Regions from separate parts of the Homo sapiens genome. Here regions 2 and 3 are each linked to region 1. Evidence: fine-mapped expression QTL. A gene starts in region 1. Each other region holds a variant in brackets. All regions are shown on one strand. Distances are between the middles of the regions.

What was found. PIP is the estimated chance that this variant, and not a neighbour inherited with it, causes the effect. A credible set is the group of variants that fine-mapping cannot tell apart.
Region 2: its variant is the best candidate, but not a certain one, in a credible set for the expression of RASSF3 in atrial appendage (GTEx, PIP 0.73).
Region 3: its variant is the best candidate, but not a certain one, in a credible set for the expression of RASSF3 in whole blood (INTERVAL, PIP 0.76).

Annotation. Positions count from the first base shown.
Region 1 is chr12:64,606,657-64,613,999 of GRCh38, forward strand. It overlaps RASSF3 (Ras association domain family member 3), which reads left to right and starts at 3,839. Exons shown (of 5, transcript NM_178169.4): 1 at 3,839-4,087. The coding sequence starts at 3,977. RASSF3-DT (RASSF3 divergent transcript) reads right to left here and starts at 2,810. Exons shown (of 2, transcript NR_187549.1): 1 at 2,689-2,810. RefSeq lists enhancers at 2,379-2,428, 2,649-2,708 and silencers at 3,339-3,408, 3,569-4,088, 4,299-4,368.
Region 2 is chr12:64,643,887-64,651,229 of GRCh38, forward strand. All of the region lies in intron 1 of RASSF3 (Ras association domain family member 3), which reads left to right. Among named protein-coding and RNA genes, the nearest start is that of MIR548Z, 25 kb to the left of the region's middle. RefSeq lists an enhancer at 3,861-4,584. The variant G/A (reference allele first, on the strand shown) is at 4,164.
Region 3 is chr12:64,629,114-64,636,456 of GRCh38, forward strand. All of the region lies in intron 1 of RASSF3 (Ras association domain family member 3), which reads left to right. Among named protein-coding and RNA genes, the nearest start is that of MIR548Z, 10 kb to the left of the region's middle. The variant A/G (reference allele first, on the strand shown) is at 3,449.

The DNA.
Region 1 (7,343 bases):
ATACAAAAATTGGCCGGGTGAGGCGGTGCGTGCCTGTAATCCTAGCTACTCGGGAGGCTGAGGCGGGAGGATCGCTTGAACCCGGGAGGCAGAGGTTGCAGTGAGCTGAGATCATAGCACTGCACTCCAGCCTGGGTGACAGAGTGAGACTGCGTCTCAAAAAAACAAAACAAAACTTGAACTTGGTTGCATACATTTAATTTTATTTATTCCACCCCCTTCCCTGAATTTGAAATGTTAAAAGTGTCTAGTTGCTTAACATGACATTTTGAATTTTTACAGATACAATTTTCATGAGCTAAATTTTAAATTCACAATATTTTAATTAAAAATGCTACCAGGCTAGGCATGGTGGCTCACACCTGTAATCCCAGCCTTTTTGGAGGCCGAGGTGGGAGGATCACTTGAGCCTAAGAGTTCATCAAGACCAGCCTGGGCAACATAGTGAGATCTTGTCTCTACAAAAAAAATATAAAAATTAGCCAGGCCTGGTGGCATATGCCTGTAGTCCCAGCTACTCGGGAGGCTGAGGTGGGAGGATTGCTTGAGCTTGGGAAGTCGAGGCTGCAGTGAGCCAACATGGCACCACTGCACTCCAGCAACAAAGTGAGGCCCTGTCTCAAAAAAAAAAAAAGCTACCAGAAAAATATGCAAATATCATTATGCTGCTTTTAGGAAACAAAATCACAATTCTTCCTTCCTTTATTTATTTATTTATTTATTTATTTTCTGAGGCAGAGTCTCCCTGTGTCGCCCAGGATAGAGTGCAGTGGCGTGATCTTGGCTCACTGCAACCTCTGCCTCCAGGGCTCAGGTGACTCTCCTGCCTCAGCCTCCCGAATAGCTGGGACAACAGGCATGTGCCATCATGCCCAGCTAATTTTTTTATATATTTTCAGTAGAGATGGGGGTTTCACCATGTTGGTCAGGCTGGTCTTGAACTCCTGACCTCAAGTGATCTGCCGGCCTCAGCCTCCCAAAATGCTGGCATTACAGGCGTGAGCCACCTCACTCGGCCCTTTCCTTTATTTATGTTTTTTTTGTTGCTTAAAAGCAGTGCTTCCATTTCATTATTTGATCATGGCTTTTAAAATTATTTTATTTATTTATTTTTTTAAGAGACAGACTCTTACTCTGTTACCCAGGCTAGAGTGCAGTGGTAAGATCATAGTTCATTACAGCCTCAAACTTCTGGGCTCAAGTGATCCTTCCACCTAGCCTCCTGAGTAGCTGGGACCACTAGCATGTGACACCACATTGGCTAATTTTTTTTTGTTTTTTGTTTTTGTTTTTGTAGAGACAGGGTCTCATTTTGTTGCCCAGGCTGGTCTTGAACTCCTGGCTTCAAGCAATCCTCCCACCTCGGCCTTCCAAAGTGCTGGGATTACAGGCGTAAACCACCATGCCTGGCCTAATCATGCCTTTATAAAAAAATCATTTTTTTTTAGAGAAAAGGTCTCACTATGTTGGTCAGGCTGGATAGGAACTCCTGAGTTCAAGTGATCCTCCACCTCAGCTTCCCCCTGTGCCCCACTCAATCATGCCTTTTTATTATAACTGATTCTGATGGTATGCTGACAGATATACAAATTAATCCAGTCCTTTGGAGCTTAAAAATAATACAATGAAAAAAATCATTTTTATGGTGTGGTGCATCATAAAGTTTATTTATTTATTTATTGAGACGAAGTTTTGCTCTTGTCGCCCAGACTGGAGTGCAATGGCGCCACCTCGGGTCACTGCAACCTAGGCCACTCCGGGTTCAAGCGATTCTCCTGCCTCAGCCTCCCGAGTAGCTGGCGCACGCTACCACGCCCAACTAATTTTTGTAGTTTTAGTAGAGGCGGGGTTTCACCACGTTGGCCAGGCTGGTTTCCAACTCCTGACCTCAAGTGATCCACCCGCCTCTGCCTCCTCAGGCGTGAGCCATCGCGCCCGGCCAATAAAGCATTTTAATGCATTTTTCCTCAAAGTATTCATAAACTTCAACTTGTTCTAGGTAAAATTATTTTCCCCTTTCTACCCACAATAAAATGAGTAATTTAAGCCCTTAACCTACACATTATTCTTACCTTGGAATATTTAATAAGAGCTGCGCTAATATTATATCTGAATAATGAAATAAGAGAAACCAAATAAGAAAAATTTGTCATAAAGCCCTATTCTCCTACATTAGATTATGTGCATGGCACACACACGGATCAGCTTAAGCTGGGTGAAACTATATGGAGTTAGAATTCCTGGCTTCCTATCATTCAGTAGCTGTGTGGCCGAGAAGAAGACTTTAATGTTGTAGGACCTTTAAAATGGGCTGTAACTCAAAGGCCCTCCTTCTGGAGTTGTTGTGAATCACGTGGGGTAATATATACTAGTTTACAAGATGGATGTGTAAGCCCGAAGGTGGAGCAGGTTTGCAAGCCTTCTTTCAGCCTAGGGACAGTAGGATGACTCATGAGTCAATTCTTCTCTCCTTCCCGTCATTTCGGGTCCAACTCTTCCTCCTGTAGTCCACAAAAGAGCACGGCTGACCGATACCAAGCAGAGAACCCAGTAGGGTATGTGACCACGTTCAGATCAACAGAACGCAAAGCAGAACGGTCCGAGTACTGCCTCCTACAGCCACTTTCCTTTCTTTAAGCCTCAGCTGCTGCTCTAGGTGTAAAACCGGCATAAAATAGCACTACGTACCTTGCAGAGTTGCTCGGAGGATTGAAGGAGATAATGTAAGAGAGTTTGGCTAGTTTGGCTATGATGGATGGACATTTTCTCTTTTCTAACGTCTCTCTTCCCCTCCTAATGAAACCTCTTCTGAAGCTCGCTAACTATAGCAGGGCTTGCAGCTTCAAAAAAACCTTTCAGTCAAGATCTTGAAATTAGTATTATTTAAATCAGTGCAGTAACACCAAGGTGTAAAAGACTGTTACCCACTGGTGGCTTTAAGAGGATTAGCTGACTGAAGAGTTTTAGAAAACATGGAAACTTTTTTTGTACGTGGATGGATGGAATTCCCTGATCTCCTTATCCCCACCACTTAAACCATGCCTTGTGGGTGACCGTGGAAGGCTGATTGTGGCGGGGACATTTACAAAGCACATTTAATTGATAAGCACTCGATTGTTCTGTAACTATAGAACTAGTTCACCTTTCAGTTGCACTGAGTGCGCCTAAGATAACGATCTTATTTGGAAGTGAGCCCTCGCTAGAAAGAAGGGGAAAAGGGTAAGACCGAAGCTCAAATGAATGACCAGAAAGGATGTTTTCATTCGAATAAACTCAACCCAGTTTTTGACCTCCCCACCCATCTCTGCCAACTTGAAATCCTCCTGGAGGGGCGAGCTGCTGGGGTTCAGGACTGGGCGTTGCGGCTGCAGGAAGCCGTGGGACCTGGGGGGTCCCTCGGCCGGGCAACCCCCACCCACCCCTACAGGACCCTGGTGCGGGGGCGAGCAGGGAGTGGACGCAGAGAAAGTTCCCCGCTCTGCTCCCGCCCTCTCCGAAACTCGAGCCAGCGAGGCTGGGGGCGGGCGGACGGCTCGCAGAGGAATTTGCAGTTTCCGGGAGGTTGAGGAAGCGACCCGAGCACAGCCCCAGCAGACGCAGCCCTAGCGCCCGGCTTTCCGGGTTCCGCGACGCTGTCGGGAGAAACCCGCGCGCCTGGAAGGGGCGGGCCGGGCTCCCCCCACCTGCGGGCGGGCGGGGAGGGTCGCGGCCGCGCGGGGTGGGGCTCGGCCGGTCGCCCGTCCGGGGCGGGGCCCAGGGAGGCGGGGTCGCGGGCGCACCGGGGCCGAGCCGCGCCTGGAGCCTGGCGGGGAGGCGGCAGGAGGGGCCGGGAGAGCCTGATTGAGCGGCGGCCGCAGCTGCATAAGGACTGCCCGGGGCTGCGCGCCGGGAACCTCGCGGGGCTGGCGGGCGCCGCACCCCCTCCCTGGCCGCCTGCGCCCCGGGGAGGCCGCCCGCGCGCGACGGGACCGGCAGCATGAGCAGCGGCTACAGCAGCCTGGAGGAGGACGCCGAGGACTTCTTCTTCACCGCCAGGACCTCCTTCTTCAGGAGAGCGCCCCAGGGCAAGCCCCGCTCCGGCCAACAAGTGAGTGGCGCGCGGCGGGCGCTGCAGCCCGCGCCCCAGAGTTCCGGGGAACCCGCCAGCCCGCGCCCCCTGCCTCCACGTGTCTCTGCGGGGCGCTCGGGGGATGCTCGCCGGGAAGGAGGAGCGGGCCGAGAAGTGGCTTCTGCCTTTTCGGGTCCCGGGAACGTGCCTGGAGCTTGTGCGTGTAGGCGAGGGAAGGCGGAGGAAGGGCGGGGAGGCTGAGGGCCGGCTTCTGCCTTCCGCGCCAGATGGCCTCTGCAGCTCCGCCTCGGGCTGCCGCCTGCGGGGAGCAGCCCCGGAGCCAGCAGGCGTCCCCGGGCCACTCCCCCAGGTTTCCCCTTCGCGTCCCCGCTGGGTCGACGGTCGGGTTCGCGCGCCTGTCCTTCCTGTTAGTCAGCTTACTCATCTGTGGCCCCCAGAGTGGCTTGGGTCAACGTGTAATAGCTAGGGGTGGCCGGGTGACCTGACCTCCCCTCTTCCTGGCCCGGGCGACCTGGTGGAGTGGGGGTCCAAGGGCACCGTGGGCCTCGCCACCATAGGCTCTCACTAAATCTCCGTTGCGGGACTCAGGGTTGTGCGTTTTCTGTAAAGCTAGGTTTTTTGGTGCCCAGATGTTTTGCAAACAAGCTCCTATGCTAAATACTAGCCAGCGACAGCTAACCTTTTCGCCGGTTTCTTCCTTTTTTGGAGGCAGCATGCCGTGGGAAGCACGAGTTGGGAAAAGATGGGAAGGGAACTTGTGCCAGTTTCGCCAGCTGTAGCCGTGTTTTTTGGGAGGCCTTCCCGAAACGGGGCACGTCGGCTGGACTGAGGAGCCCGGTGCTAGAGCCCGCGGCCTCCTGGCACTAGGAGCCGCACCAGGGGAGCCGGGCCAACCCGGCCACGCTCACATCAGATTACAGAAGATTGTAATGGCACAAATTTGTTGCTTTTAGAAAACAGGCGTTCGCCAAACATTTCTATTAATACCGGACTGAGACCTAGAGACTAGAAGCAAGAAGAATCGTTCAGGGGCCGGATGATAACTTCTTTTGGTGGATGTGGGAGGGTGCAATCTGTCAGGGTGGTCTTGCCAGACCTCTTAAGTTTAGCCACTTTCTGAAGTAAAATTCTTTCTAAAATTCGGAAGTTCTAGTCTTTTCAGGCTCTTAAGTCCCAAACCAGGAGGAGGAGAGGAGACGGTGAAGGGTAAGCTGAAGTCAAGTGCCCTTATTCAGTAACCGCAGTTAATCTCAAGTCCCGGTGCCATAGTTGTCCGTCTTGTATTGTTTCTAAGGCTTAAGGCCCCACTATTTACGAGTCACTTTGAGTGGGATCTCTTACTTTCAGCAGAGTGTGTTCTGAGAGCATGAGATTGCTGTGAAGTTTGGAAGTTGGAAACGCCCTCTCCTCCCCCATGCCCACCCTCCCTGGGTTGTAGAAAAATTGCATTTGCTTATGCTTTTTCCATTTTTGCTTTCTCTTTCTTGGCCTCTCTCTTCCCCTTCTCCGTTTTGCATTTTCTCCTTTCATTTATGTTGCTTTCACCACTTGACATGAAAAGGAACTCATGGTAGTTTGAAGTTTATTCCAGAGGTGTCTGCTAATCTCCTGAAAACTGGCTGGTTCTTGGATTCTCCAGGGGTGAGATGCCACAAGGGCCAAACTATTCAGGTTTGAATTGTATGAGAATCCTTTAGTGCTTTAAAGAGTAAAGACATCAGTTTTTTTCTAGGTTTATATGCATTTAGCGTTTCTTTTTTTTTTTTTTTTTTTGAGATGGAGTCTCACTGTGTTACCCAGGCTGGAGTGCAGTCGTGTGATCTCACTGCAACCTCAGCTTCCCTGGTTCAAGCGATTCCCTTGCCTCAGCTTCCCGAGTAGCTGAGATTACAGGCATGCACCACCACATCTGGCTCATTTTTGTATTTTTAGTAGAGATGGGATTTAACCATGTTGGCCAGGCTGGTCTCGAACTCCTGGCCTCAGGTAATCTGCCCGCCTTGGCCTCCCAAAGTGCAGGGATTACAGATGTGAGCCACCGCCCCCGGCACATTTATTGTTTCTATGTTGTATGCAATCATTTATGTATCATCTAGCATATATATTATACTCAGGGTAGTATTATTTAGCATTTAGAATTAGTCTAACATTAATATGTATTTTGAAATATCGTGTTGGAAATCAGGACAGGAAGACATAGTTCGTGGTTGAAGAGCTTCATATGTGTATTTGAAGCTTTATTGCCTGCATATTTTTCCCTTCTAACATAACACATGTAAGGTGCTGAGTTGTAGAAGTTATTTGCCAGGCAGAGAAAGTGTTCTAAACTACGAATTTTAGTGAGCATTGTGGTTTATTTAAAGAAGTGATATGAATGTTTTAAATTCCTGGTAAGATTGGTGAATTAGGGAAGTAAAACATCATAAATATAAAGCAAAACACTCTTAATGTAGAATGTTCCTTTTATCTAACGTTAGATAAGCCTTTTTCTTCATTTTCATGCTGATGATTATAAGAATAAGATAAGCACTTCTGACATACATCATAGTAGTGAAATTTATCCTTTCTCTAGAGAGATGGAAAGAGAGGTATTGCTAGAAGGATCTATTAGAGATACAGTGATTTTTTTTTTTTTTGGATGCTGTACCACCTGGTGGAAAAGTGAGAAAAATGAGGTTTCTAGATTTCTTGAAAATATCCGGAGAAAACAAGATGTTTGTGGTAAATGCAGAATGGGGAGAAAGGGGTGAGGGAGCGGGTGGACTGGAAATTTCTTTCTTCTCTTGCCAGGCAAGGGAACATAGTGCAACTTCTTTCTATCCCCAACAGTAACAAAAACCTTATAAAGAAAATGTTTTCATTTTTTTTCTTACTTTAAACCCCATTCTTAACAACAAGAACAACAACAAAAATGGAAAAGGGTTAAAAAACCTGTCTAGGCCACGTGTGGTAGCTCATGCCTGTAATTCCAGCACTTTGGGAGGCTGAGATGGGAGGATTGCTTGAGCCCAGGAGTTTGAGACCAGCCTGGACAACATGGTGAAACCCTGTCTCTACAAAAAAAATGCAAAAATTAGTCAGGCATGGTGGTGCTCGCCTGTAGTCCCAGCTACTCGGGAGACTGAGGTGGGAGCATTGCTTAAGGCCGGGAGGCAGAGGTTGCAGTGAGCTGTGATCGCACCACTGCACTCCAGCCTGGGCAACAGAGCGAGACCCTGTCTCAAAAACAAAACTGTCTAAAAGATATAAAGGGAACGAACATATGACGTTTTGT
Region 2 (7,343 bases), 37 kb after region 1:
TAAAGCTTCATTGTTGTGTGTATGCAATTGAATCGAAAATATACTTTTCATACAAAGACAACTTCCTAAAGGTAAGTGTAAACTTGTATGTAGTTTGTTAATCTTATTGTGGTATTTTGTTTTTCTTAAACACAGTTTCCTGTTCTTTTGCTTTTGCATGTCAACATTGCTGAAAATAAATATTTTGCTCTGCAGGGATAGTAAGCCAGATGGAGTGGTATTTATAATTTGAGGAAATAGCTTAAACTTTGTCATCAGTTTAAATTGCATTAAAAAACCTGAAGCACATTGATTAGAGTTGTTTAAGGTAGAGAACCAGAAATATTCTAAATATCCTATGCCTAACCTGTCAAAACTGTTCCTGAAATATATAGAGAGGGAAAGAGTACCTGAGGAGCTCAGGAAGAGTGATGGCCTAGAGCGTAGCTTGAATTGAGCAGCAGAGGTTTCTCTGGAGTGTCCTGTATTATCTTAGGCAAATTTGTAGTCTTCTTAATAGTATCTGTTTACATATCAATATGTTTTCTGTCCAGGCAAGGTGGCTCATGTCTATAATCCCAGAACTTTAGGAGGCCGAGATGGGCAGATCACTTAAGCCCAGGAGTTGGAGACCAGCCTGGGCAACATGGAGAAACCCCATCTCCGCAAAAAAATACAAAAATTAGCTGGGCGTGGTTGCACATGCCTGTAGTTCCAGCTACCCGGGAGGCTAAGGTGGGAAGATCACCTGAGCCCAGGAGGTTGAGGCTGCAGTGAGCTGTGTTTGCATCACTACACTCCAGCCTGGGCAGCAGAGACCCTGTCTCCAACCAAAAACAAACAAACAAACAAAAATATATATAATGTATATGTATATGTGTGGTTTTCCTGTCAATTTTTAAGTAGAATGTCCTCAGATACATATGCCATGTTTATCCTGTTACTTCCAGGATACCTGGGAATACCCAGAGGTTTGTGTCTATGTTAGTGTGAGAAGCCCTAACACATTTTTGTGTAGAGACAGCAAAACCTGTCTCTACAAAATAAAAAATAAAAAAATTAGCTTAGCATGGTGCCGTGTGCCAGTAGTCCCAGCTACTGTGGAGAATCACTTGAGCCTGGGAGGTTGAGGCTGCAGTGAGCCATGATCACGCCACTGCACTCCAGCCTTGGTGACAGCCTGAGGACTTTCTTATGGATTAAGGTGGGAATTATTTATGGTTTGCATGCTGAGAGAGATTTTCTGAATTTTTTCAACAAATATTGAACACCTGCCAGGTTGTGAATTTTTGTGGAGTGGATCAAAAGGACTGAAGGAAATGAACAAATAATTTTGGCAAACCATTATTAAGTAATGAATATGTATTGTATTCATTAATTAATGTATTAAGTGATGAATATGTATTGAATATGTGTATCATCACAGTAACTCTATGAGGGAGGTTCTATTATCACCCTCATTTATAGGATAAAGTACATGAGAGATGAATTTATCCTTAAGAAATATTTTCACTTTGGTGAGGCATGGCAGCTCATATTTTCACTTTGGCGAGGCATGACACTTTGGGAGGCTGAGGTGGGAGGATGGTTTGAAGCCATGAGTTTGAGACCAGCCTGGGCAACATAGTGAGACCCTGTCTCTATCTTTTTAAATTATAAAATTTTAAAAATAAAGAAATTTTTTTTTATTTTGAGAAGTTTGTGTGCTTTAGGTGTGTATTCTGTTTCATTAAGCCAAAGTTTGTATTACTAGCCTTCTATCCTGTCTTCCCATCCTTACCAAAAAAAGAGAAAAAGAAAAATAGTTTTACTCCTGAGGTTAAGAATGGGGCATGTTGTATCAATGTTTATTTGTGTAGATATTCTTTTGAATTTTTAAAAATTGGGGTATCACTTATATACAATAAAATGCACAAATCTTAATTGTACAATCTAATGAGTCTCTATGTTTAACTACCACCCAGATGTAGAAATGCAGTACATTTCTGTTACCCAGGAAGGTTCCTATGTGACTGTTCACAATCAGTAATCTCCCCAGCCCTTGGCTAGAACCACTAGTCTGACTTTTATCACCCTGAGTTAATGTTGCCGCATCTTGAACTTCATATAAGTAAAATCATGCAGTATGCACTCTTGCAGCTGACATCTTTTGCCCAAGTCAGTGCCACACATTGAGATTCATCCATGTTATTGCATATATCAGTAATTCTTCATTGTTGTAAAATATTACATTGTTTGAATATATCATTATTTATCCATTCTCTTGATGAACATTTGGATTGTCAATCAGCTGCTTTGATCATTCTTGTAGAACGTGTCCTTTGGTGGACATAACCCTTCATTTTTCTTGGCTATATATATACCTAAGAGTGGAATTACTGCATTGTAGAGTAGGTGTATCATTGGCTTTAGTAGATATTACCAGTTTTCTAACTGTGTTAGACTGACGTACATGCCCACTAGCAATGGATGAGAGTTCTGTTTTCTCCACATCCTTGCTAACAGTCTCTTTAGTTGTTCCATTTTTAATTGTGTCTTCAAGTAGGAAGCACCCTCACTTACAGGAGAAAGGAACTCCCAAGGAAGTTTCTGATTAGTGCAAGTTGGGTGGGATGAAGATGAATAACCAATACATAGCCTAAAGCTTTGCTCAGCATCTTATTCAGATGTAGTATTTATTTCAATGACAACCAAAAATAATTTCTGAATGGACCCTCCCTACCCATCTACTGTAAGTTAACATTGTCCAAATTCTAGTCTAATTATGCTTATGTTCTTCTTCTCCCCTCTTATATTCATGCTGAAATATTAAAAAATCACTGCAAATTCCTATGGAAAACCTCATACTTCAAAAGGGATCAGTGTTTGGTTTCTCTCTCCATTTTTTTTTTTTTTCTGTTGAAATAGAGTGAAAGACCCAGGAATAATATGCCTGTGTGTACATTTTGCAGATCTGGTAATAATAACAACTGTAGCGGTTACTGAGGGCCTCCTCTGGGTCAGGCTCTGTGAGAAGTGATTTGTATTCCTTAGTTCATTTACTTTCTATCATGACCCAATAAAGTATATGTATCTTTGCTATCCCCATTTTATAGATGAAGAAGCTAAAGCTTTGAGAGGTTAAGTAATTTGCCCAAGTTTATCTAGCTAGTAAGTGCAGAAGCTAGAATTTTAATCTAGGTCTGTCTAACTACAAAGGATGGAATTAGGCCCCTTTCTTATGATTATTAATAAAAATGATCTCTATGTAGTTAGGATTTACTAACCCAATTTCTTTTATCTTTTAAACTGAGAATCCCTCCACCTCCTGGCACCCCAGTTCTGGTAAAAGATAAATGAAACCCATAGTTGTTTTTCTCAGCAAGGGTTTTATTTATTTATTTATTTATTTTATTTTTTTTAAGACAGAGCCTCACTCTGTCACCAAGACTGGAGTGCCGTGGCACGATCATGGCTCACTGCAGGCTCAGCCTCCCAGGCTCAAGTGATCTTCCTGAGCAGCTGGGATTGCAGGCACACACCACCATGCTCGGCTAATTTTTTTTTCTTTTTTTTTTTTTGGTGAGACGGGGTCTTGCACTGTTGCCCAGGCTGGAGTGCAATGGCATGATCTTGGCTCACTGCAACCTCCGCCTCCCGATTTCAAGTGATTCTCCTGTCTCAGTCTCCAGAGTAGCTGGGATTACAGGCATCCACCACCACGCCCGGCTAATTTTTTGTATTTTTTAGTAGAGACGGGGTTTCACCATGTTGGCCAGGCTGGTCTCGAATTCCTGACCTCATGATTTGCCCACCTCGGCCTCCCAAAGTGCTGGGATTACAGGCATGAACCACCGCGCCCGGCCCCGGCCTTGTATTTTTTTTTATAGAGACAGGGTTTTGCCCTGTTGCCCAGGATGGTCTCCAACTCCTGGGCTCAAGCAGTCCTCCCATCTCAGCCTCCCAAAGTGCTGGGGTTACAGGCATGAGCCACTGTCCCCAGCCTCCCAAGGTTGTTTTTAGGCCCTTTGAGGCTTATAAAATAGAATAAATGAGAAATAGGTCCAACCTTCAAGAGCACTGTGTATAGCACCCAAGATTAGAAATGCATATGTTCAGCCATGACATCTATGGAAAGTACAGAGGACAGGTCCTGAGGAAGTGCTGGGGCTGTTGGTGGTACCAGCCTTTGTGTAGCAGAAGAT[G/A]TTTGAGCTGTGCTTTGCAAAGTGGCTGGATCATAGACATGTGAACACTAGGAGTTGGGCCAGTGGGTGGAGATAGAATTTGTGCCTCAAATTGCAGATACTTCTGTTTGGTGGGTACATGTGTGACAGGCATAAACTTAGTGAGTAGGTGGCCCCAGATTTGGACCAGGTCAGGGAGACTCTTGAATGTCAGGCCTTGTGGCCTTTTGAGGCATTTCCCGCTGGACGATTAGTTGGGCAGTGGTGTGGCAGCATGTGGAGGTGGAGAGGCTGATGGAGAACTTGCAGTAGGATGTCCATCATGTGGGACTGAAGGCTAGCTGGGAGGTATATCTGGGCTGGAGAAAATGGACATGGGACTCACAAAACTGGTTGTAGGAGCTATGGGAATAGACAGAGGCTCCCGGCTAGAGCTCTAGGGCATAGTGGGTTAACCAGCGGTGGGTGTGGTGTCAGAATCACTCATAAAGCTTTTTTTTTTTTTGAGATGGAGCACGTTCCTGGCTCACTGCAACCTCCACCTCCTGGATTCAAGCGATTATCCTGCCTCAGCCTCCCAAGTAGCTGGGACTACAGGCATGCGCCACAACACCCAGCTAATTTTTGTATTTTTAGTAGAGACGGGGTTTCATCATGTTAGCCAGGATGGTCTCGATCTCTTGACCTTGTGATCCGCCTGCCTCGACCTCCCAAAGTGCTGGGATTACAAGGATGAGCCACCAAGCCCGGCCAAGCTTCTTGTTTTTACATTGATTTTTTTTTTTTTTTTTTTTAGAGATAGGGGCTCGATCTGTTACCCAGGCTGGAGTGCAGTAGTACAGTGTTGGCTTACTGTAACCTCCAACTTCTGGACTCAGGTGATCCTCACCCCTCAGCCTACCGAGTAGCTAGGACTATAGGTGTGTGCCACCATGCCCGGCTAATGATTTAAAAAATGTTTTGTAGAGACAGGGTCTCATTATGTTGCCCAGCTGGTCTCAAACTCATGGCCTCAAGCGATCCTCCTGCCTTGGCCTCTCAGGGTGCTGGGATTAAAGTAAAGGAATGAGTCCAGCTACTCATACAGCTCTTGAAAACCCTCTGGCTTGGTCTGACCCTGGAGCTTCTAATTGGTGTTCTTGGGGTCTCAGCAGCCATCTGGGTTTTTTTTTTTCTTTTTTTGGGATGGAGTCTCGCTCTGTCGCCCAGGCTGGAGTGCAGTGGCGCGATCTCGGCTCACTGCAAGCTCCGCCTCCCGGGTTCACTCCATTCTCCTGCCTCAGCCTCTGGAGTAGCTGGGACTACAGGCACCCGCCACCACACCCGGCTAATTTTTCGTATTTTTAGTAGAGACAGGGTTTCACCGTGTTAGCCAGGATGGTCTCAATCTCCTGACCTTGTGATCCGTCTGCCTTGGCCTCCGAAAGTGTTGGGATTACAGGCATGAGCCACTGCGCCTGGCCAGCCATCTGGATTTTTAAAAGCACCTTGGCTTCTAGTGCATATTCTCTGCCCACTCTGCAGGTAAGAAGCAGTGAGGAAAATGGTCCTAGGGTACCCGGTTAGGACATAGTCATATCTCTGAGTTCTCAGGGAACTCAGGAAAAATCATGCCGTCTCGATAGCCAAGTTATCAGTGTCAAATGTCTCGAAAAGATCTTGTTTCCAAAGTCGTCATGCTTAACACTTCCAAAACAAAGAGTGTGCCAACTTCTTTGGGCAAGCCATTTGTGGGCAATTTTGAGGATCAGAAAAGCTCTTTGGTGAAATAAACTAAACGGTCTCCCTGAATAGCTTTCACAGTGTGGGCCTTGCAGGGAGCACAAGGCCAGCCCACCCTATACATGATATTCTTTACGATTATAAAGACACTTTTTACTGTTTCTCCCAGTTTTCCTTTTTCCCACACTAACATCCCCAGTATGCTCTTGTGTAGTTTTCAGAGCCTTTGTTATGATTCCCTCTGAACTGTTGCTCTTTGCCAGTATTGCTTTTCAAATAAGGCAACCCCAAATTTACGCACCAGCATTGTTTAGTGGGACCATTTATTTGTCTCTTGTCATGTAGATGATACACGCATGTATTTGCAGGGGCAGGGACAGGGGATCCCCAGTATAAACTTTAAATGTGCCTTTAATTCTATCTTGGATTCACCCTGTTTGAGCCTGTGATCTGGCTTACCCTCCCAGATGTCATTGGCCAATTTGATAAACAAATTCGATTATCTCCATGCCAAAGAGGAAGCAGTGCCTCAAGGCAAGCCTGAAGCAGCGCTGCCATGACAGGACCTTGACAGGTCCTTGATAGGACCTTTGTGCTGTGCTCAGTGATGACCTCAGTGATAGTTGTCCTCAGCCAGGAGGTGTTTCTTTTTTTTTCCTTTTTTTTTTTTTTTTTTTTTTTTGAGACAGAGTCTTGCACTGTTACCTGGGCTGGAGTGCAATGGTGCAAGTCTGGGTTCACTGCAACCTCTGCCTCCCAGGTTCACGGGATTCTTCTGCCTCAGCCTTCTAAGTAGCTGGGATTACAGGTGCGCGCCACCACACCCAGCTAATTTTTTGTATTTTTAGTAGAGACGGGGTTTCACTATGTTGGCCAGACTGGTCTCGAACTCCTGACCTTGTGATCTGCCCGCCTTGGACTTCCAAAGTGCTGGGATTACAGGCGTGAGCCACCGCGCCTGGCCGAGTTGTTTATTTCTAAAGGATTTTTAGGAGTCTTAAAAAAAGTCTTTTCCTGTACCTTAAACAATGGTTTCACTAAAGGGAATTGCTGTCTTAGATGTTTCGTGTTGAATCTTACACATTTTTGCCTAAGCTGTATCATCCTCATTGGAAAACCCTTGCACCGAGTATTTACTTTTAGTCACACTTTGCTATAAACTTTATGACTTGTGCATGCGCGATTGTATGGCTGGCTCTTTGCCTTTTGCCTCTACTGTGACCAACACTGATTTCTTACAGGCTTGTAAAGTGGTTTCCAAGATCTGTTTGCTGTGTGTGCTTGGCTGCATTTGATATAAATAGATTTGAGATTAGTGTTTGAAAGTGCCATATGACCATATACAGAGCTGACTTACTAAGGATATGTTACTGCATTTCAGACACATCTAGTAATAGAAAAATCAGTGTCTTAATGGGCTGTGCCTCTCTCGTGTCCCCTCTTTTAAAAAAAAATTTAGTTACAACTAAATGTCAGGAA
Region 3 (7,343 bases), 22 kb after region 1:
TTTTTTTAAGACAAGGTCTCACTCTGTCGTCCAGGCTGGAGTACAGTGGCGTGACTTTGGCTCACTGCAACCTCTGCCTATGGGTTCAAGCAATCCTCCCACCTCAGCCTCCCGAGTAGCTAGGACTACAGGTACGTGCCACCACACCCAGCTAATTTTTCGTATTTTTTTTTTTGTAGAGATGGGGTTTCACAGCATTGCCCAGGCTGGTCTCAAACACCTGGGCTCAAGCCGTCTGTCTGCCTTGACCTCCCAAAGTGCTGGGATTATAGGCATGAGCCACTGCGCCCGTCCCACTGCTATTCTTCCAGCTAGAAGGACTATACTTAAATGCATAATTATACAACCTTTTGATATGTTATGAAAATCATAAAAAATTATTTTTCTAGCAACTCCTGCCCTTTTCATTAAACAGATCCTAGTAGTCCTGAAATTCTGTGGTGGATTTTTATATGTAATGTGATAATATGAAGAAATAGCTGATTTTGGTAGCTGCTCACATATTATGTTTGTTTTAATTGGAAAAGTTGGCCTATGAAAATGAGTGTTGTATAAAAATGGTTTATGTGGACCAGGCGCGGTGGCTCATGCCTGTAATCCCAGCACTTTGGGAGGCCGAGGTGGGTGGATCACCTGAGGTCAGGAGTTTGAGACCAGCCTGGCCAACGTGATGAAACCCCATCTCTACTAAAAATACAAAAATTAGCTGGGCATGGTGTGTGCGCCTGTAATCCCAGCTACTCGGGAGGCTGAGGCAGGAGAATCACTTGAACCTGGGAGGTGGAGGTTGCAGTGAGCTGAGATTGTGCCACTACTCCAGCCTGGGTGACAGAGCAAGACTCCATCTCAAAAAAAAAAAAAAAAGAAAAAGAAAAAAAGAACAAGAAAGAAAAATGGTTTATGTGAACTAAAAGGTTGTTTGCATTTTGTGGCAAATAACAGCACCAAATTCCCAGATCCTAAATGTTTCAGTTATGAAATATTTGAAGTACCTCTGAATTTACACATAGGCATTCCACTCATGTAAGCACTCATTGATTTTAAGATTTTTCATTCATCAAAAGGGAAAATGTGGGCTGCCATATGTATAATTTTTGTCATCCAAAAAAGAGATATAAAGTTAAAAATTAGCAAGGCCATGGTGGGTCATGCCTGTAATCCCAGCACTTTGGGAGGCTGAGGCAGGAGGATTGTTTAAGCCCAGGAGTTTGAGACCAGACTGGGCAACAGAGCGAGACATTGTCTTTACTGAAAAAAGAGAAATTATCCAAATATGGTGGTTTGTGCCTGTAGTCCCAGCTATTTGGGAGGCTGAGGCAAGAGGTTTGCTTGAGCTTAGCAGTTTGAGGCTGCAGTGAGCTATGGTCACACCACTGCACTGTAGCCTGAATGACAGAGACAGACCCTATCTCAAAAACAAAACGAAATTTAAAAAAAGGGTGCTTAGAAATCCTGAACTGTTCTTTTTACTCCCAGGACATGTGATCATATGCCTACTCAGGAATGAGTTATAGCTAGTTCTCAGTAGATGTTTAGTTATTAAAATGGAATGAAGGCATGAATGTGGGGATGAAGTAGAGGAGGGGCTGGGTTGGAGATACTGGTTAATTGGGAGGCATTAGTAACACTGAATGTGGGCAGAGAGGTGGTGAGAAAGAGGAGTCAAGGAAGAGTTGTAGGTTTCTGGTTTGGGAGCCTTGGAAGATGGTGCTAGCAAGCAGCCACTCACCAAGAAATCAAGTAAGAAGAAAGATCAGGTTTAGGAGGGAAGACACATTCAGGCAATCAATATATGGCATACACCAGGCAGTCAATAAATTTTGAGTGAGTAAATCTGGGCATGTGTGTTTTGAGATGTCTGTGGGCTATCAAAGTTTCTGGAGTTTCTTATCAAGAAGGTAGACCTGGTCTGCAGAGAGAGCTTCAGGATTCGTTGAAGTCATGGGCTTAGATGAACTATGTGTGTAAAGCAAAAAAGGTGTCTTTAGACAGAAGCATGGAGGATACCACAGAAGCATGGGGGCACCAGCAGGTAAGAAGTGGGCAGAGAAGGGCATGTCCATGGAGGAACCAAGGAGTGGTCAGAGAAGCTGGAGAAAAAGAAAAGGGTGGTTGTCCTGGGATCGGAGGTTGGGACCACCTCAAGAACAAGGGCTTGGCCATGGGACAAGTGCTTCAGAAAAGCCAAGAAGGCCTGGGGTGGAACTGTGTGGCAGTCTCTGGAGACCTTGAGGAGAGCCACTCCAGTGAACTGGAGGCGTACAGTCACACTGCAGTGGGTGGTGAGTGAATAGTGCAGAGGAAGCAGGAGAGTGAGTAGAGGTGCTCTTCCGTGAGGCTTGTCTGGCAAGGAGAGGATGGTGTAGTAAAATGAGGAGCCTACAAGGGCGAGGGAAGTGGTAAGGGTGTTGTCATCGTATGTAATGTATGTATGTATGTATGTATGTATGTATGTATGTATGTATGTATGTATGTTGAGACATAGTCTTGCTCTGTCGCCCAGGCTGGAGTGCAGTGGTGCAATCTCTGCTCACTGCAACCTCTGTCTCCCGGGTTCAAGATTCTCCTGCCTCAGCCTCCCAAGTAGCTGGGATTACAGGCACCTGCTACCACACCCAGTTAATTTTTGTATTTTTAGTAGAGATGGAGTTTTGCCATGTTGGCCAGGCTGGTCTCGTCTCAACCTCCTGACCTCAGGTTATCCGCCCACCTCGGCCTCCCAAAGTGCTGGGATTACAGGGGAGAGCCACCATACCCGGCCTGTTTTTTATTTATTTTTAGATGAGAGGACTTCAATGGAAAGAAGACTGAGTGTCAGGGGAGTGAGGATCATTGAAAGAGATGCCTCCCTTCGCACTGGAAGGGATGATATTTGGATTCTAAGTAGAAGGCTGCTTAGAAAGAAGACGTCTCTCCCATCGTTGAGTGGAGGAGAAGTTCAATCTAGAAATGTGTATATAATACAAGAGGGGGTGACTAGGCCTTTCAGTTGGTGGCAGGTGGATATTGATGGAGGAGGTGGGTATGCACATGTGGGAGTGGTGCATGAAGAGAAGCCCACACAGGCAGGCACCGGGCCAGAAGAGGGGAGTGCTGGGGTATTTGGGACCAAGTGGTGGTATGGCTGCAGCAAAGGTTGCCACGCCAAAGGTGTGGTGAAAAACTACGCTGGAAAGGAGGGAGGGTTGGCAGGCTCTGAAAGGCCGTGCTTGCCAGCCTGAGGATTGAATATTTTGTGAGTAAGGAGGAGCCACTTAGGGAGAAATAAAGTGGTCAGACCTATGATTTTAAAACTGACAGCAGAGTTTAGAGGGCAAGAGGGGTAGGGATATTGTTTGGAAGGTGATTGCGGTAACCTGGGTGAAGGTAATTAGGGCTAGAAATAGGATAGTTGCAGTGGGAGAGAGAAGGACTCCAGAAATTGAGTTGTCACATTGGCACCTGATCG[A/G]CCAGGGTGAGGGGAGGCAAGGAAGGAGACGAGAGAAAAGAAGGAGGTATGGAAGGTGGCTGGGTGGGAGGATGGCCATGCCACTGTGGAATGGGGAGCACGGGAGGAAGAGGAACAGGTTTAGTGAGGTAGGGGAACAACTCGGTTTTAGGGCCTATACGCAACATTTGTGTAGCATCCAGCTGCAGCCAGAATTAAGGGTCTGAAGCTCAGGACAGACCTCAGATCTCATGGAAGCATGAGATCATCATCCTTGAATTGGAAGTGGTTGAGATTTATTTGAAATAACAAGAGAAAAATAAATCTTGATGTGGATATGGACTGGAAGAGTAAACTTCACAGACCATTTGAGTGTATTTTTAACTTTCTTAGAAAAAAAGTCTTTGAAGACCAGAATGTGGTGGTGCTCCACAAATAGCTCAAAATTAGCACATCTAGAATAAGCTAGAAAATAAATCTAAGCAGTTTCAATAGAAATGCTGTTATCTTGATCTGGCTCTATTTGTTTTTTTTCCTATCAGGTTAAAATCTGTTTCTTCAATCATTTTGTTTATTCCTTTTGATAAGAGACTTCAGAGGACTGACAGGGACTAGCTGGTTATGTTTTTGAAAAGTCTTTGAAGATGAAACATATGTTTTGAGTGTGGTGACACTGCATTAATTATTCTCTGGTTTTGACACCAGTGGATACTGATACGGTTTGGATGTGTGTTGCCTTCAAATCTTATGTTGAAACGTGATCCACAATGTTGGAGTTGGGGCCTAGTGGGAGGTATTGGATTATGGGGATGGATCCCTCATGAATGGCTTAGTACCACCTCCTTGGTGATATGTGAGTTCTTACTCTGTTCACGTGAGAGCTGGTTGTTTAAAAAGAGCCTGGCACCTCCTCCTCTCTCTCTTGTTCCCTCTCCTGCCATGTGACCACCTGCTTCCCCTTTTCCTTTCACCTCCTGAGGTCCTCCTGAGGTCCTCACCAGGAGCAGATGTTGGTGCCATGTTTCCTGTGCAGCCAACAGAACTGTGAGCCAAAATAAACCTCTTTTCTTTATAAATTACCTAGCCTCAGATACTCTTTTATAGCAATGAAGAAAAGACAAACACAGAAAATTGGTACCAGGAGAGGGGCATCGCAATAAAGATACCTGAAAATGTGGAACTGGCTTTGGCACTGGGTAATAGGCAGAGATTAGAAGAGTTTGGAGGGGTCAGAAGAAGACAGGAAGACAAGGGAAAGTTTTGGAACTTCTTAGAGACTGATTAAATTTGACCAAAATGCTGATAGAAATATGGACCAAGTGGGGTGGCTCACGCCTATAGTCAGCACTTTGGGAGGCTGAGGTGGGAGGATTGCTTGAGCTCAGGAGTTTGAGACCACCCTGGACAAAGTGGCAAAACTGTATCTCTACAAAAAATACAAAAATTAGCTGGGCATGGTGACATGTCCCTGTAGTCCCAGCTACTGGGGAGGCTGAGGTGGGAAGATGGCTTGAGCCTGGGAGGCAGAGTTTGCAGTGAGCCAGTATGAGTCACTGCACTCCAGCCTGGGTGACAGCCAGACCCTGTATCAAGCAAACAAACAAGAATTGTGTGAGCTGAACTAGTTGAGATGTCTATGGTGTTGGCTGTTGTTTCTGCTGTTAATCATTAGTTCTCTTAAACTAGGAGATGAACAAGGTTAACCTTTTTCTTGCAAATTGACACAGAGGGTCTGCTGCTGTGAGCTTTATCTTCAACATCATCTTGTCCTTTTTTTTTTTTTCCTACTTTGAAAAAAAAATTCATTTTTTCATAGAAATGAGTTCTTACTATGTTATCCAGGCTGGTCTTGAACTCCTGAGCTCAAGTGATCCTCCTCAGCCTCCCAACTGGGATTACATGTGTGAGCCACTGCACCCGGCACTTCTTGAAGGGTTATCCACTTGAAAACTGCTGATTTTTGGGGGGCATTGTCCCCACAAACTTTTCAAAAAGCAACAGTGATTTCACCATTCTGCCCAAGCTTCACCATAAATTTGATGTTTGTTTTTGCTTCAATTTTAGCAGAATTCTAGCCCTGCGTGGTGACAGGCACCTGTATTCTCGGCTACTCCGGAGGCTGAAGCATGAGAATCGCTTGAATTTGGCAGGCAAAGTTTACAGTGAGCCGAGATGGCACCATTGCACTCCAGCCTGCACGACACAGCGAGACACCATCTCATAAAAAAAAAAAAAAAAAAAAAAAAAAAATTAGCAGAATTTATGTTGCTCTGATAGGGGCTCTTTTCAAACTGATGTTTATCCTTCTTAGTGCCTCAAACTAGGTTTTGCTCAGACATGTTATGACAAGTTAGTACAAGTTTATTTTGGTGCAAAAAATTTTTCAAATCCATGCATAGTTTCTTCTTTTTCTTTTCTTTTCTTTTCTTTTTTTTTTTTTTTTGAGACAAGATCTATCTCTGTCATCCAGGCTGAAATACAGTGGTGCAGTCTTGGCTCACTGCAACCTCTGTCACCCTTTTCCCACCTCAGCCTCCTGAGTAGCTAGGACTACAGGTACATACCACTACACCTGGCTAATTTTTGTATTTTTTGGAGAGATAGGGTTTTGACATGTTTCCAAGGCTGGTCTCAAGCTCCTGAGTTCAAGCAATCCATCTGCTTCAGCCTCCCAAAATGCTGGGATTACAGGCATGAGCCACCATGCCTGGCCGTAGTTTTTTCATAATATTCATTTTCCTTGAAATTTTTGATGACCCCTCGTATCTGTATTCCTGTTTTATAGTATCACACATTTATTACGTGCCTGTCTAATACCCATTGCTGTGGTTTTCTCTGGGAATTCAAAGAGGAGTAAGCTAGTAGCTCTGCCTTCTAGCACATGGGCTAGTGGAAAGTCATAAAGAGCCATTTAATGACCACTGTCAATGTCTGTGTAAGGGCAGTGAAGAGCACGCTGCTGTTGATAAGGATGGCTCACATTTATGGTACACTTGCAATACCTTTTACCCATACTGATTCATCTCATTCTCACACCAACTCTGTGATGTGGTACAGTTATTAGAAGAGGCACAGAGAGGTTAAATAGTAGCTGGTAATTAGATTAACCAACGTTAGAAACTGGGTGGTCTGGTGTGAGAGCACAGGCTTTTAAAAAGCGGTAAGAAGAGGGGAAGCTGCAGCCTAGTTAGGGTGACTGTTGTGTTATTGAAGATGAGGGGATGAGGACTTTGTGCATGTGTGTGGAGCCTGGGCTGTGAGGGTCAAGGGACAATGGGAAGGGACATTAAAAGGTTATGGTTAAAGTAAGCCTAGACGGACTAGTTTGAAGTCAAATAGTAGAAGGTGAGGATAGAGAGGGGGATGGGAACCAGATTATGAAAATAGGCAGTATCTCTTTTTTATGTCAAGTGTTACCCTGAAATTCCGAAACTATATTTCTTATGAACATACTGATTACATTCATTGTTATTTAAAAATATGCATGTACAATATGGGTGGAAATGATAATGATTGTAATGAGAGTGGCTCACAATTCCAAAGAAGTTGGGGGTTTCTGTGGGTTTATTATAACTTACGGTTTTTTTTTTTTCTGATATGGAGTCTCACTCTGTTGCCCAGGTTAGAGTGCAGTGGTGCGATCTCTGCTTACTTCAACCCCCGCTTGCCAGGTTCAAGCAATCCTCCCCGCTCAGCCTCCCAAGGCTCCCATTGCAAGCATGCACCACCACGCCTGGCTAATTTTTATATTTTTATTAGAGACAGGGTTTTGCCATGTTGCCAGGCTGGTCTTGGATTCCCGACCTCAGGCTATCTGTCCACCTTGGCCTCCCAAATTGCTGGGATTACAGGCATGAGCCACTGCACCTGGCCAGTTTATTATAATTTAAAAAGCAGTCTGTTATTAGTAGGCTTC